Linked DNA regions of Homo sapiens: region 2 is linked to region 1. Evidence: fine-mapped expression QTL. A gene starts in region 1. The other region holds a variant in brackets. All regions are shown on one strand. Distances are from middle to middle.

The links. PIP is the estimated chance that this variant, and not a neighbour inherited with it, causes the effect. A credible set is the group of variants that fine-mapping cannot tell apart.
Region 2: its variant is the best candidate, but not a certain one, in a credible set for the expression of SNU13 in whole blood (INTERVAL, PIP 0.66).

Annotation. Positions count from the first base shown.
Region 1 is chr22:41,687,346-41,690,143 of GRCh38, forward strand. SNU13 (small nuclear ribonucleoprotein 13) reads right to left here and starts at 1,522. Exons shown (of 3, transcript NM_001003796.2): 1 at 1,449-1,522. The coding sequence starts at 1,451. It also overlaps the pseudogene C22orf46P. RefSeq lists enhancers at 722-891, 1,442-1,621 and a silencer at 1,003-1,202.
Region 2 is chr22:42,224,345-42,227,142 of GRCh38, forward strand. The region is part of intron 1 of TCF20 (transcription factor 20); the gene reads right to left. Among named protein-coding and RNA genes, the nearest start is that of TCF20, 45 kb to the right of the region's middle. The variant C/T (reference allele first, on the strand shown) is at 1,130.

The DNA of each region.
Region 1 (2,798 bases):
TTTAAAAATTGCCATTGTTTCCAACAACCCATTCTCTGGAAATCAGGATTCTCAAATCTCAATAAACATCAAATTCATAAAAGAGGAAGACTTCAGGAATCTGAACAATCATTAAATACCTAAATGTTTCACTATTAGTCAACAAAAAAGTTAAACTCAATTTTAAAACCAAACTAGCTTATAAACACTAATTGAAACTTGCTTAGGGTGTATTTATTTGCCTTTCAATTTCTTCAGGGGTTAAATAAATTAACGAATGATATCATACCACCAGCCAACCTAAATCCCTACCTAGCATGATCAGTTTGGTTTCGCTGTACACCAGACAGCCAAAACTTGCAAGGTTTTGATTGAACAACAAATACTGCGTGCTTACTCTGTACCAAGCATCAGGACTAGATGTTTACCATGCTTTATTTCATTTGATCCTCACAACACCCTCATGCACTGTCATCCCCATTTTACAGTTGAGGAAAACTGCAAAGTTCAACCTGAGACCATCCGATTCCAAAACGTTTCAGGGAGCTGCGTTAAAGCGAGCACTGAGTTTGGAAGCTTCAAGTTCTAGGCTCAGCCACGTACTAAGCTTCAAAATGCATGGGAGGAGGTTTGTGGGGAGTGCTACCGCCGGGATCCAAGCTCCACTGGAAGGATTAACTATAGAAGTTACAGTGCTTTACAAATTCTTCCCTCCTCACCAAGTGCCAACCAAAACTACTACGCCAGGACACACGTTTTAGAACTTTCCCTAGATGTTTAAAAGTCAGAGACGACCAAGAGTTTAGAGACGCCGCACGTGGTGCTACCAGACTTCTGGTTTTTGAAGCCACCGCCTTGCAGGAGAAGCCTTTCCTGCACTCCAGGCCGTGAGTCGCGCTCACTTCATGTTCCCCACAGCCCCCAAATGCCAAAGGCTCCTCTAGGTCCCTGGCGCGTGTGACTCGCGGCGGGCACTAAGCGCAGACCCATGGGAGATCTCCTCCTGAACCCCAGCAACGGGGGTGGGGTGAGGTAGGGTGGGTAGGAGAGGTTGATCCGAATCCCAGGGTCCCACGCCATCGTAGATTTCGTATGAAAAGAAACAAGGAAAAAAAAAAGTTGGAGCCAAGTTTTCTTCACCCAACTTTTTGCCCTCTCCCACGTGGGTTGGTCTCTTTCTCCCAGGCTGGGCCATGCCCCCTCCGCTCGCTGCAGGCCTTTTGCCAAGCAAACAGACCGTGCGGCAAAGCAACACAGCTGCGGGGATCCTAAGGTTTCCTGAGTTCTAACCTCGGGCCAGGCTGCTGGGACCCCGCCGCTGCTGGGGTTCTAACTAAGGGCCCGGCGGTTAAGACCCAACGCCGGCGGATGAGACGGCGCAGGCTCTAAGCCTCCATCTAACAGGCTAGGGAGTGAACGCAACCCTGAGTCTCCCGCTTCCCGGTCCCTCGGCCGGCGCACGCACTCACCATGGCTGCGGTTCCGCGGGCTCAGCACTCCTAGGGGAGCGCAGCTGACGTTTCAGAAGCACTCGCGTGCACCGGAAAAACTCACAGAAGCAGCAGCGGAAATGGCCCCGCGCGGCAGGAAGCGAAGGTGACGCTACGCGAGCGAGTGGGCCCCGCCCTCTACGGGGGCACTGGCGCGGAAACTGGCCCTGTGTCGAAGAAGGAACGTACTTTGGCGTTCTTATGAGCTGCCTAGTACAAATTATTGGCAGAAACAATGAATTAAACATTCAAAAAGTAACCCACCGGCCGGCCGCAGCGGCTTATGGCTGTAATCCCGGCACTTTGGGAGGCCGAGGCGGGCGCATCACCTGAGGACAGGAGTTCGAGACCAGCCTGGCCAACATGGCGAAACCTCGTCCCTACTAAAAAATACAAAAATTAGCCAGGCGTGGTGGCGGGCGCCTGTAACCCCAGCTACTTAGGAGGCTGAAGCAGGAGAATCGCTTGAACCCCGGAGGTGGAGGCTACAGTAAGTTGAGATCATGCCACTGCACTCTAGCACTCCAGCTGAGGCGACAGAGCGAGACTCTCAAAAAAAAAAAAAAAAAGGCCGGCCGGGTGCGGTGGCTCCCGCCTGTAATCGCAGCACTTTGGGAGGCTGAGGCAGGCGGATCACTAGGTCAGGAGATCGAGACCATCCTGGCTAACACAGTGAACCGTCTCTACTAAAAATACAAAAAATTAGCCGGGCATGGTGGCGGGCGCCTGTAGTCCCAGCTACTCGGGAGGCCGAGGCAGGAGAATGCCGTGAACCCCGGAGGCGGAGCTTGCAGTGAGCCGAGATCGCACCACTGCACACTGCACTCCAGCCTGGGCAACAGAGTGAGACTCCGTCTCAAAAAAAAGAAGAAAAAAAAGAGGGCCGGGTGCGGTGGCTCACGCCTGTAATCCCAGCACTTTGGGAAGCTGAGGCGGGCGGATCACCTGAGGTTGGGAGTTCGATACCAGCCTGACCAATATGGAGAAACCCCCGTCTCTACTAAAAATACAAAATTAGCCGGGCGTGGTGGCGCATGCCTGTAATCCCAGCTACTCGGGAGGTTGAGGCAGGAGAATCGCTTGAACTTGGGAGGTGGAAGTTGCAGTGAGCCGAGATCGCGCCATTGCACTCCAGCCTGGGCAACAAGAGTGGAAACTCGGTCTCAAAAAAAAAAAAAAAAATTCCAGCCACTAAACAGTTAAGGCCTGGCTCATTATAATTGGCTGACGTCCCTGCCTGCTCAGATATTTAATATTTTGAATAGAACTTTTGGGTAAAAGAGTCTTCAGGGTAACATTTATTTTCCCACCAACACTGATCCTAAGATG
Region 2 (2,798 bases), 540 kb after region 1:
ACCTGTAGTCCCAGCTACTCAGGAGGCTGAGGCAGGAGAATGGCGTGAACCTGGGAGGCAGAGATTGCAGTGAGATCGCACCACTGCACTCCAGCCTGGGCAACAAGCGAGACTCTGTCTCAAAAAAAAAATTTCCTAAAAAATTTAAAAGATGATATCCCATCTGGTTAGGTTAGGCTAAAGCTGGTACAAAAAAAAAAAAAAAAAAAAAAAAAAAGCACCATAAATGATTATGACTCTTGGAAAAGAAAACTGGTAATAAAACAGTCAACCAAACAAAAAAACAAAATACCAACATATTCACTCCAGTAATATGTATTAGAAGAAAAAACTGGCAACAACCTATTTGAAAATTGATTAAACAAATTATGGTATATCCACTCAAAGAAATAGTACATAATCATTTTAAACAATTGCAAAGACTCTAGCACCATAGAAAATTACATAGTATCAGATGAAAAGAGCAGCTCACGTAAACTTATACCTGTGCTATGATTATAACTATCTGAAAATGAGGCATTCATTTAGTCCCAGGCCAAAGGGAATAATGGAGAAAAAAGGAAAACTTCTGGACTATCCAAGATGGCAGTGTTGTGGAAGTATTTTTTCCCCTTTTCATTTCTATTTACATTAATTTTTGTGTAGGAAATAATCACTTTTTTTTTTTTTTTTTGAGACAGAGTCTTACACTGCACTGCTGGAGTGCAGTGGTGCAATCTTGGCTCACTGTAGCCTCTGCCTCCCAGGTTCAAGCAATTCTCCTGCCTCAGCCTCCCAAGTAGCTGAGATTACAGGTGCCTGCCACCACGTCCGGCTAATTTTTGTATTTTTAGTAGAGACAGCATTTCGCCATGTTGGCCAGGCTGGTCTTGAACTCCTGACCTCAAGTGATCCACCTGTCTTGGCTTCCCAAAGTGCTGCGATTACAGGGTGAGCCACAGTGCTCAGCCAAAATGTCATTAACCTCATTTAAAAATTACAACCCTTAGGCCGGGCGCGGTGGCTCACACCTGTAATCCCAGCACTTTGGGAGGCCGAGGCGGGTGGATCATGAGGTCAGGAGATCGAGACCATCCTGGCTAACAAGGTGAAACCCCGTCTCTACTAAAAATACAAAAAATTAGCCGGG[C/T]GCGGTGGCGGGCGCCTGTAGTCCCAGCTACTCGGGAGGCTGAGGCAGGAGAATGGCGTGAACCCGGGAGGCGGAGCTTGCAGTGAGCCGAGATTGCGCCACTGCAGTCCGCAGTCCGGCCTGGGCGACAGAGCGAGACTCCGTCTCAAAAAAAAAAAAAAAAAAAAAATTACAACCCTTGAACTATCTCAACAGTATCAGAGCTTTATCTGTTCCTACTGACAGCAAAGTGCTGCTCTGCCCAAGGGAAAGAAATAGAGGCACAGGGGACCCCACAAGTCAGAAGCAGGAGGGAAGGGAGGAGCCTGCCAGACAGGACCTCTACTTCAGGAAACCTGGTGCCAATGCCACACACAGGGTTGTTGGACACCACAGTGCCCAGGCAAGTGTGCACACAGGGTCACTAGCTCAAAATTATTTTTTGAGAATCAGGCCTAAAGTCAGCTGAATTCCAACCCACAGTCGGCAGGCCTATTATTAGGCATAATTTCAAACAGCCAAGAGGCTGCAAGCATCCTATATCCACCACATGCTTCTGTAACTCTGCAAGGAGATGCTATAAATCTGCTCCTGAGCAGACCAAAGGCACCTGGGCCCTATCCTGGCCCCACCCCCACTCCATGGCTATCTGTCTTATTTTCACAGGGGCATCCCAAGATCACTTCAGATGACCACATATGTGAGCAGGATGGCCAAACAGTTCCCAAAAAGGGGGCAGGAGAAGGGTGGGAGCAGGACATCTCTGGGGCTAGCTAGAGGCTCCTGTGGGATTTTCTTAAATGCTGAGCGTAGGGGCTTCTGAGATGTCATTGAATATATTTTTTCATTCAAAGGTTGTATTAATACATAATTTCTAAACCTTCAGAGGCAAAAGGGAGGTAATTAGTGTTGCCACTTATAGGCTAAAAGGATGTTCCATTTTATAATTCATTCAAATATAATTTTGAGGCCGGGCCTGGTGGCTCAAGCCTGTAATCCCAGCACTTCGGAAGGCTGAGGCAGGCAGATCACACCTGAGGTCAGAAGTTCAAGACCAGCCTGGCCAACATGGTGAAATGCTGTCTCTACTAAAAATACAAAAACTGGCCACATACGGTGGCGGAAACCTATAATCCCAGCTACTCAGGAGGCTGTGGCAGGAGAATCGCTTGAACACAGGAGGTGGAGGTTGCAGTGAGCCAAGATCACGCCACTGAACTCCATCCAGCGTGGGTGACAGAGTGAGATTCTGTCTCTTAAAAAGAAATAATAATAAAACAAACAAATACAATTCTGAATTAAAATTCAAAAGATATCAATGACCAATCCAAAGCAGAAGTGGGCAAAAGCTATATGAAAATTAGAGACTTCACTGAACAACCCAAAAAAGCTCAAAACAAAAGGAAAGAAACAAACTAGCAGAACAAATGGTATAGCTAGATAAAAAGGGCTAGTATTGTAAAGACGTTAAGTCTCCACATATTAGTTTATAAAATTCTAATAGGTTCCAGTCAAAATCTCAATAGGATATTAAAAAATAATTTTTAAGACTGGGCGTGGTGGCTCACGCCTGTAATCCCAGCACTTTGAGAGGCCAAGGCAGGCAGAACACACGAGGCCAGGAGTTCAAGACCAGCCTGGCCATTACAGTGAAACCCCGTCTCTACTAAAAATACAAAAATTAGCTGGG